Regions from separate parts of the Homo sapiens genome. Here region 1 is linked to region 2. Evidence: fine-mapped expression QTL. A gene starts in region 2. The other region holds a variant in brackets. All regions are shown on one strand. Distances are between the middles of the regions.

Region 1 (5,360 bases), 71 kb after region 2:
ATACTATTGATGCATAAAGCCAAATTGCTTTTAAAATAAAATTTACTTAAATATGGAGCTATTTTGAAAATATTTATCACAGGGCATGGAATTTCCACTCTAGGAGTTTTAAGGAAATAATTTGAAAAGTATGCAAAAATTTAATTACTAGGTTACTTATCATAGACTTAACAGTTAAAAAAAGAAAACTTGGAGTTGTCCTACAATAATGGAAAATTAGAAACAATCCAAATGTTGAACTATATGGCACAGGTGAAATACATTATACTAAGTCCATACCATGGAACACTATTAAGCCAATGGAAAAATATTCATAATATACTGTTGAAGAGGAAAAAGGTAGATTACAAGATTATATATATATATAAAATCTTTGAAAAATTTATATATATGTATTATTATAAATAAGTATATAAGAAAAAAGCCTGGAGGATGTTAATATTTATCTTTGGATAATAAAATTATTGCTGTTTTATTTTCCATCTTTTGTTTATGTGTGTTCTACAAAAAATACACATTTCTTTATTAATGAATGTATCAATTTACATGTGCAGTACTGAGAATATAGTGGGATAACATTTAAGATTATAGCAGATTAAATTAGCTGTACTTACTATTATTTCTGATGCAAAATACCTGAAAGGATCATTTCCACCTTCTTCAGACTGTTCAAAGAATTGTGCTGTCAGCAAAGGGCATTTCAAGCTTTTGAAACAACTAAGGCATAAGAAATAGGTAACTATGAAATCAACACTTCCAAGTATAAAATCCCTAGGTCTTCAAATCTAAGTTAATTTTACTTGAAAAATAACATAAGCACTGCTATGGTTTGAATGACTCTGCTCTCCAAAACTCATGTTGAAATTTAACTGCCATAAGGAGGTGGGAATTAGGCCAAGGGGGCTCCACTCTCACGGATGAGATTAATGCTGTTATAAAAGGGCAAGTTCAGCCCACTTTTGCCTTTTGCCCTTTTACCTTCAGCCACATTATGACACAGCTAGAAGGCCCTTGCCAGATGCCAGCGCCTTAATTGCAGACTTCCCAGCCTCCAGAACTGTGAACCAATGAATTTCTGTTCATTATAAATCACCCAGTCTTAGGTATTCTGTTATATCAGCACAAATGGATTAAGACAAGCATCAATAACTCAATGGTCTATAAAACTGGTGATGTAACGTCGTTCGTACTAGTAATGGGGAGAACATGAGAACACCTTGCTAGACTCAACATGCTAAGACTGACTTCTACATCTGAACTATTCCATTGAATTCTGAATGTTTGAGGGCTGGTGCTAGTCTATGATGTTGTTTTCATTAGTTCAAAGAAAAAATCAAGAAATACAGTCATTTTTTCACACAGCTCTATTTGTTTTATTTAGAAAACCAAACTTTATTCTGTGATTAAGCCTTTCCTATTTCTTTAGTTAAAATACCTTTTCTTTTATGAAATAATGGGTTTTATAAATGGTAAAAAACTTTTTTTTTGAGACAGGGTGTCTGTCACCCAGGCTGGAGTACAGTGGCACAATAATAGTGCACTGTAACCTCAAACTCCTGGGCTCAAAGGATCCTCCTGCCACAGCCTCCCAAGTAGCTGGGACTACAGGCACACACCACTGTGCCCAGCTAACTTTTTTATTTTTTGTAGAGACAGGGTCTCACTATGTTGCCTAGGCTGGTCTCAAACTCCTGAGCTCAAGCAATCTCCCAGCTTGACCTCCCAAAGTGTTAGGATTACAGGTGCGAGCCACCACGTCTGGCTGTAAATTTTTTTTTAAATGTCCTAACCTGACAAGTAGGAAGCTAAAAATAGTATTAGTCTCCAAAATTAAAATATTATTTTATATTCTATTTTTTAGAGACGAGGTCTTGCTATGTTGCCCAGGCTGGTCTTGTACTCCTGGCCTCAAGTGATCCTCCTGCCTCAGCCTCCCAAGTAGCCAAAATTTAAAAATTACTGGTCCATGTAATTAATCTAGTCTATCACTGTCCAATAGAAATATAACACAGCCCCATATATAATTTAAGATCTTTTAGTAGACACATGAAAAAAGTAGTAAGAATGGGAGAGATGATTTTAATAATTTATCTTAACCCAGTATATCTGAAATATTGTCATTTCAACATGTTATCAATATAAAAATTGAGGTATTTTACTGTTTTTTTTTTTTAAATAACAAGTCTTCAAAATCCAGGGGATATTTTATAATTAAAGTATATCTGAATTTGGACCAGCCATATGTCAAGTGCTACAGCCATATTGAACAGTAGATGTTTAGTCTATAGTACCCATGGAGGGAATGCTATTGGGTGGATACTCTACCACTATTTTTGTGGTCCAGTTGGATGTTCTGTCTGGTGGTCTTTCTGCTGCTTCCTTTGAAAGAGTAAAACACAATTTCTCCACAGAGCTACCTATATCTATTTCCCACACTCACCCTGAGCTACATGTATCTATTTCCCCCACTTTCATTATTCACCTACTATGATGAATAAGGCAATACAAAGAAGAATATAAAGTAAATGAATGGATTTTGGTTTTATAATTATTTTATTAATTAATTTCTTAAAGACAGGGTCTTGCTCTGTTGCCCAGACTGGAGTACAGTGGCCAATCATCATTCACTGCAGCCTCACACTCCTGGATTCAACCCATCCTCTAGCCTCAGCTTCCCAAGCAGTAGCACTACAGGTATATGCCACTACATCTAGCTAATTTTTAAATTTTTTTATAGAGATGGGGGTCTCACTATGTTGCCAAGGCTCGTCTCAAACTCCTGGCCCCAAGCAATCCTCTCACTTCAGTCTCCCAAAGTGATGGGATTACATGTGTGAGCCACTACACCC[G/A]GCCTATAATTTTTTAAAATATAAATGTCTCAAGTTCCCATGCTGTATCAACTGAACCCCACATTCTTCTAAAATTCAAAATCTGAAACTAGATTTCTATTTACATGTCAAACAAAGTGAAGAAACATAAAATAACTGAACTATCAATTACTTAAGTCCACTGTGAGATGTTCTTAAAATTATACTTACAATTTCAGTAATTCATCCTTTAACTTTTCATTTTCCAGTGAGTTTTCTTTGTTATCAATGACTTCTTCCACAAAAGGCTTAGTGAACTCTATTAAGGCCTTGCAACACTGACAAAGGCCATAGTCATCCATTTGTATTTGTTCTTTTGAGTATGGAACAGGAAGAAGAGATAGCTGATTCCAAAGGGTAGACAATGCTAATCCAATTGAATATGCCTTGTTATGAAGTTTCTGAATCACTAAAACAGAGATCAAGTTGTCGCTCATCAAGTATGCTAAACATGGGACAAGAAATTCGGCAAATGTGGAATTATAAGACACTTCCTCCTCCCACATTTTAACAACTCTTGAATCAAGATGACACATCACAGTCTAATTGGCAGTGTTTTTTTCTTCTTAGTTGTGCATAAAATAATACAGCATCTTGCCATGAAATGCTGTTTAGGTTATGTTTATAACAGACTATGTGTAACAGGCTATGTACTTAAGACAGAAACATGTTCTTTCCATGTTTTTGGGTTGTTATAAGCACAAAATATAAGTGTATTGTAAACTATAAAGCACTACACAAATAGGAGGTGGTATTATTAGATTTTTTTTCCCTAGAAGACTGAATATTACAGGTAGTATGAAGCTGGCAGGCATTCATATTTAAAACAAATTTAATTTCTGATTCTAGGTCCCTCTATCAGATTGTGAGATAAACGAATTTCCTAAAATGAAAAATAACCTCTTCCTATGGATACTGTCTGCCTTGGTTGCTAAGACCCATTACCTACCAATACTGTTACTGCACTCAGCCATGGAGCCTTATCATCCCATATCTCCTCGTTTCATTCTTCAGTAGTAGCTTTGCTATGCCCAATCCAACCTCCCAAAGCAGAGGCTGAGCAATGCCTTGCCTGATACTCTTCCAGACTACCATAATGCTATCAGATTTAGTACTGCAGACACCACAGAGGTAACCCTTGAAACATGTTTAGAGAGAAAATTCTAGATTTAAGCAGCAGATAGGAAGGTTAGGCAAAAAGGTATAGTTTTCAATATAGCACATGAAAAATAGTATGACATTCAACAGAATATTTACTGGGTACCCACTCTGGCCAGATACTATAATCTTTCTATGAGCAGCAGTATTCACATTGGCATTGCTATTATTGGTTTAAGCAGAGTACTCACTAATTAGCTGTAAACTTTACTTTGGTGTAGTATTGACATTTTGAGGTAACCATCAAGGCATTTAGAGATACAACAAGAAGTACTCTGATATCAAAATTCTCATTACCTGTTTGTAATGGCTGAAGCAAAAGAAGAATACTTTGGGATATCTGTTTTCCAGAGGGCTCTTCAATCAGTTCAAGCAAACCCAACAATAATTCCTTTGGATTGCATAACTATAAAAATATTCACAATTGAACCTGTTTAATACAAGTTGTATTTAAAGCCACATTATTACTATTTTTAAGAAGGCATGTATCGACAAAATATTATACAATTATGTTTTTGCTTAACATTAAAATTATTTATACAATTGTTGAAAAAATATGCATGAGCAAAACACAGAATCTGTGATGGTCAAGTAACTATAAAACTAAAAAGCAAGAAGTCAATGGATCTTTAGGCTCAGGTTTCCTTTGAGCTTCACCTGTCCACTCTGAAATTGCCTTAACAGATTCTCAGGGGCTCCAGCAGGTGGGACCTTTCAATCCCATGCTGCAAGCCTATTTAGACTAGTCTGGAATCTCTTTTGTATTTTTTGAACAGGTAAAACTTTGCATTGCTTTCTGACTGGCCATATCTTATCATCTCACTTGACTGGTTTTTTAAAAGCTCCCAGCTCCCATAGTCAATAACTCATACAGATGGAGCTCTCCTTCCAATATATATTTGGGTATATTTGCACTGATCACTAAACAGTTTCTTATAATATACTTTTTCTCAGAATTTATCTTTCTTGGCCATCAAATATTGACTGTAAACTCTACTAGCCTTTTACCCAGGGTCGCTTTCTAAGGTTGTTAGTCACAACTGATCTGTATTCTACCCTATTCCTACTTCAATTTTAATCACTTGTATTCTAGGCCTTCCATTTTCTTTTAGGGAACATACCACAAAGGAAAGAGGACTGAGATTTTAATCTAGTTCCAATGTTGCCAAAAGATAAATGTGACCTTGAACTACCTCTCTAAAGCTTGTATTCCACATCTATACGATAAGGCTACTTGTTAAGATATAGCTTCCCAGGTCTCTCCCTGGAGATGCTGAATCAATGGGTCCGATATGAGGTTAATATGAGGTTAGACAATTCTTTTATCCAGAAAAT
Region 2 (5,389 bases):
GACCTCAGGTGATCCACCCGCCTCGGGCTCCTAAAGTGCTGGCATTATAAGCGTTGAGCCACTGTGCCTGGCCTGTTTTTTTATTTTTTTTTTTTTGAGAGCAATTATATGGTTTTAAGCAAAGGAAAGACACAATCTGACTTCTGTTTCAAAGGATTACCCTGGTTGCTATGTTGAAAAAAGACTTTAGGGGCAAGGTGAAAACGGAAACCTGTTAGGAGTCTATTGCAATAATCCAGGTGAAAGCTGATGGTGGCTCAAACCAGAAAGGTGGTCAGGCTCTGGATATATTTTGAAAGTACAGGCAACAAGACTTCCTGATGGCTGAAAAGGGTATGTAAGACAGTCAAAGTATTTAAATAAAATATGTGTAATCTTTAATTGAGATAAGGAAGACTATAGATGGTGCAGCATTGGGAGGGGAAGTCAGAAGTTCAGTTTTGGACATGTGAAATTTGAGATGTCTATTACTGGAAATATTAAACAGCAATTGGTTATACCAGTTTGGAGTTCAGGGGAAAGGCCAGGGCTGTAGATAGATATTTGGAATTTGTCAGCACATGGATGATATCTAACACTATGAGTTAAGGAGGACACCAAAGTAACAAATATACCCAGAGAAGAAAAGAGGTCCAAGGACTGAGCTTGCGGCACTCCAAGCAAGATTAAAAGGTTGGGTTTTGAGGAAGAACCAATAAGGATGCTGATAAATGGCCAGTGAGGCTGGAGGGAAACCATGAGAGCATGATATGGGGAAGCCAAGGAAAGAAAGTTTTTCCAGGAGGAGGGAATGATCAACTGTAACAAGTACTGCTGATTGACCAAGTAAAATTAGTATTGACAGCTGTTTGCTGGATTTACCAATGACTTTGACATGAGCAATTTCTGTGGTATGGTGGAAATGAAAAAGTCTGATTGGAATAAATTTGATAAAGAATGGGAAAAAAGGGCATTAGCAACAGAAATTATAGACAATCCTTTTGAGTTTTTCTGTAAAGAGAGCAGAGAAATGGATTGTTAGCTGGTGTGGGAGAGGAGATTAAGAGATTTTAAGATGAGAGAAATAATGGCATATTTATTTGCTATTGAGACTATTCAGTGGAGAGGAGAAAATTGAAGATTGTAAGAGTCAGGAAATAATTGGTGGATATATATATATATATATATATATATATATTTTTTTTTTTTTGAGACAGTTTTGCTCTGTTGTTCAGGCTGGAGTGCAGTGGCATGATCTTGGCTCACTACAACCTCTGCCTCCCAGGTTCAAGCAATTCTCCTGCCTCAGCCTCCCAAGTAGCTGGGACTACAGGTGTGCACCACCACACCTGGCTAATTTTTTGTATTTTTAGTAGAGATGAGGTTTTGCCATATTGGCCAGGCTGATCTTGATCTCCTGACCTTGTGATTCACCTGCCTCAGCCTCCCAAAGGGCTGGGATTACAGGCGTGAGCCACCGCGACTGGCCGGTGGAGCTATATTCTTGGGTAAGCAAGAAGAGATGGGCTCTGTTGTCCATTTGAGGGCTGGCCTTACATAGGATTATACAGTTCACCTACTATAGTTGGAAAGAAAGCAGAATCTGGCATATAGATGTTGGTAGATTGGTAGGTGGACATCTGTGGAACTTCGTTTCTGGATGCTTTTATTTATCTCATTTGAATAGTATTTAATATTAAATACTAAATACTATTAAAATCATAAATCTTTATGAAATATTAGCAGTAACTATTTCACTTCAGCCGAAAATGAAGATGAGGAATAAGTTCTGGAGATTTGAAGAGAGGAGGAATTGTCTTAGTCCATTATGGCCACGATAACAAAATACCTTAGACCAGGTAATTTATAAACAAGAGGCCAGGTGTGGTGGCTTAACAAACTGCCCAAATGAGGCAGCAAGAGTGCACCTAATTTTAATATCAGTTATACAAAATGCCAAACATACAAAATGGTTATCACAGGGAAAAATTAACAGCACATCACAAGTGTGCTCCAAAGGATTTTTCCTGGAGCACCTTTCTTTCTACAGGAATACCTGTTTTACAAAGTAAGGCACATAGTTTTGTATCCTAACCATTAGGCTCAAGGCAAGTAGTGGTCTTTGTCTTTTTACATTTTTATGATTGTGACACTTAATAAATTGCTGAGCTTCAATTAGGTCTGAACATAATGGGGTCCTAAAAAGCAAACACACAGGCCCCTGTATGTCCTTTTGACAGCTGCTCATGAAAATCTACCTTTTTCATAATTTGGATAAACTGAAGGCCACTTTGATTTTATGTTGCAAATGACAGAAATCTAAGAATTGAGCCTGAATTTTAGAAAACTGTGAAAATCAATTCCGGACAACTGAGTCTAACACGCAAAAATCTTGTTTTTTTTTTTTTTTTTTTTTTGAGACGGAGTCTTGCCCTGTCACCCAGGCTGGAGTGCAGTGGTGCGATCTCGCTCACTGCAACCTCCGCCTCCTGGGTTCAAGCGATTCTCCTGCCCCAGCCTCTCGAGTAGCTGGGATTACAGGTGCGCGCCTCCATGCCCAGCTAATTTTTGCATTTTTAGTAGAGACGGGGTTTCACCATGTTGGTACGCTGGTCTCAAACTTCTGACCTCGTGATCCGCCCACCTCGGCCTCCCAAAGTGCTGGGATTAGTGGCATGAGCCACCGCGCCAGGCCTACAAATCTTGTATCTTCTTAACCACTTCCGGCTTCCTGCAAACCTCGCTCTAGGGAGCCAGAAGCGCGGAAAAGGTTTGCGGGGTCTGCGGTTGCGCAGAAGCCCAGCGACTGCAGAACCCTGCCCCAGGCACCCTGGGCGCTCTGCCCTACCGGCGGCGCCTCTCACTGCTCACGGAACGTTCTGGAAGTTTGGGAAACCCTGAGCGGTCTCTGAGGACCTGGTGAGCAGGTGGGTTTGCAGCGCTGGGGATGAGGCCTCGGCAGACCTGTCTCTTCGCGTTTTTCTTTCTTCGTTCTTCGCCGGCGTAGTGCTCTCTGACTTGCCGAGCTCAGAGCTTTACCTCAGGGCTTTGGCGGGTGAGGGGAGGAGATCCTGCCCACCCTATTTTCCCCTTGAGAATCGGTGTGGAAAGGGCTCCCTCGGGGTTTTCCCTGTCAGAAGTCCGTCACCCACCTGCGAGTGTAAATTTTATTTGCTTTAGGCTTTGTTGGTCACTCCGAAAAGTAAAGAATGGAAGAGACCGTGAAGATCCTTGTAGGCCGGCGCCTCACTGGACCCGTGAGGAGACTGAGCAGGGAAAGTGACTTGCTGGAGATGATGGGGCAGTGTTAAACTTAAATTTGCAAACACTCCAGAGCTTGGAAAAAACAAAACAGTAGCAACAAAAGCCCAGAATACCAGGGCCTTGGAACTGGCAAAGGTTTAAGAGGCCACTGGGCCCACGCTTTTTGTTTTTATTTTTAATTTAACTTTTATGTTAGGTTCAGGAGTCCGTGTGCAGGTGTGTTACATAGGTTAAACTCGTGTCACGGGAGTTTGTTGTCCAGATTCTGTCGTCCCCCAGGTGCCCATTAGTGACTGTCCCTCCTCCACCTTCTGGTCCCCCGGTCCCGTCCCCCGCGCCTGCCCCTCCCCTCTGTCCCTGCACGCTCAGCGTTCACCTCCCGTTTAGAAGCTTTTTGTTTTCAGGTGAGGATGCAGCCTAACCAGAGGTGACGTGATTTGCCCAAAGCCACACAGTCCTTGCTTGGCTGCTGGTCGAGGAGCTTTTCCCCAGAAATGCTGAGAAGGCACTGCCCCAGCCCCAGGTTTCTGATTCATTCCTCACCTTTAACAGGGACTTGGGACACGACTGACCCCACTCCTTTCTCACTTATTGTGCACGTGATTACTTTACTTCTCTTAGCTTTAGTTAAATTGTTTTTAAAACCTATGTATAAGGGTGTAAAGATTTAAATGAACATTTATGGATTACTAACTGATAGGCACAAACATACATATCCACATACATACCAGTAACTACTCCAAAAAGTTCTTGTAACCTTTGCATATATGTATTCATAGCTATGTGGGTGTATTAGTAAGTATGTGTAGGGGGGGTTATAGAAGTTGAAGCCCTTCCCCCAGCCAACTCACCATTTACTCATTCACAAATCTTTGAGTGTCTACTGAGTGCCAGGTGCTGAGTAAGGTAAAACAGAATCAGAATGTGTCCCTGCTCTCATGGAGCTAGTTAACTTCTCATTCATTCATTCATGCAATAAATGAGGAAATTAGAGAGCAGCTGGTTTCAACTCAGCAGGAAGAACTTTCTAATTATTAAAGTTGTTGAAAAGTAGAATGAAATCACCTTGGGAGATACTAACTTACCATCACTGAAAGTGACTTTCTCTTTCTTTTTTTTTTTTTTTTTTTTTTTTTAAGACAGAGTCTCGCTCTATCACCCACGCTGGAGTGCAGGAATGGGATCTCAGGTCACTGCAACCTCCACCTCCTGGGTGTGCAGCCACACCTAAGGAATGGGGAGTTATATTCCCCACCCCCACTGTTTAATATTTTTAGAGACAGGGTCTTGCTATGTTGCCCAGGCTGGAGTACAGTTGTTATTTACAGGTGCAAACATAATGCACTGCAGCCTCAAACTCTTGGCCTTAAGCAATCCTCCTGCTTCAGTCTCCCGAGTAGCTTGAATTATAGGTGTGTGCCACTGTGCCCAGCTCCATGCTCCTGTTCTTAAGGTTGGAGTATATATACATAAATTTTTTGGAATTATTCTGCACAGATTTGTCTCTTCTCCATTTATTGGTTTGTTCAAACCTTTATATCAGTATAGACTCATGGATATTCACTTTATACTTTGGATTATAATGCTATTTTATTTTGCTCAAATTGTTCCAGCTTTAGCCATTGGGAGCTCTTTCAGTTGGTTCCTGTGCTCTTATGACATGCCCCATCAATGCCATCTGTGTGGGGTTTTTTTGTTTGTTTGTTTTTGTTTTTAAGTACTTTCTTTTTGGCACTACTCTGGACTCATCTTGTATGTTTCCTGTCCCAGTCCTAGAATCGACCATTTCTCCAAGGAGCCCTGGTTCCTTTTTTGGAGAATGCTATTTAGAAACCAAAATCTGGGTGCTAGGTGTACTTGTTGCTAGCACCCAGGTGCTAGGGTGTCGTTTGTTTTAGGCCCTTTCAGCTAACAGAGTAAAGAAATAGATGTGTGTGTACTAATCTGGGTATATACACATACAGTCATGCATTGCTTAATGATGGGGATGTGTTCTGAGAAATGCATCATTAGGTGATTTTGTCATTGTGAGAACATCATAGAGTGTAATTACACAAACTTAGATGGTGTAGTCTACTAGACATCTAGGCTATATGGTATAGCCTATTGCTCCTGGGCTACAAATATGTATAGTATGTTAATGTAC

Alleles and levels. Alleles are on the strand shown, and positions count from the first base shown. SD is a standard deviation of normalised expression in the study named.
For the expression in visceral fat of the gene that starts at base 2,773 in region 2, allele A in region 1 goes with a lower level than allele G (moderate effect, 0.55 SD a copy in GTEx).

What was found. PIP is the estimated chance that this variant, and not a neighbour inherited with it, causes the effect. A credible set is the group of variants that fine-mapping cannot tell apart.
Region 1: its variant is the best candidate, but not a certain one, in a credible set for the expression of C1orf146 in visceral fat (GTEx, PIP 0.90).

Annotation. Positions count from the first base shown.
Region 1 is chr1:92,285,876-92,291,235 of GRCh38, forward strand. GLMN (glomulin, FKBP associated protein) reads right to left here. Exons shown (of 19, transcript NM_053274.3): 5 at 4,323-4,431; 6 at 3,039-3,276; 7 at 615-717. Among named protein-coding and RNA genes, the nearest start is that of GLMN, 10 kb to the right of the region's middle. The variant G/A (reference allele first, on the strand shown) is at 2,850.
Region 2 is chr1:92,215,143-92,220,531 of GRCh38, forward strand. It overlaps C1orf146 (chromosome 1 open reading frame 146), which reads left to right and starts at 2,773. Exons shown (of 6, transcript NM_001012425.2): 1 at 2,773-2,906.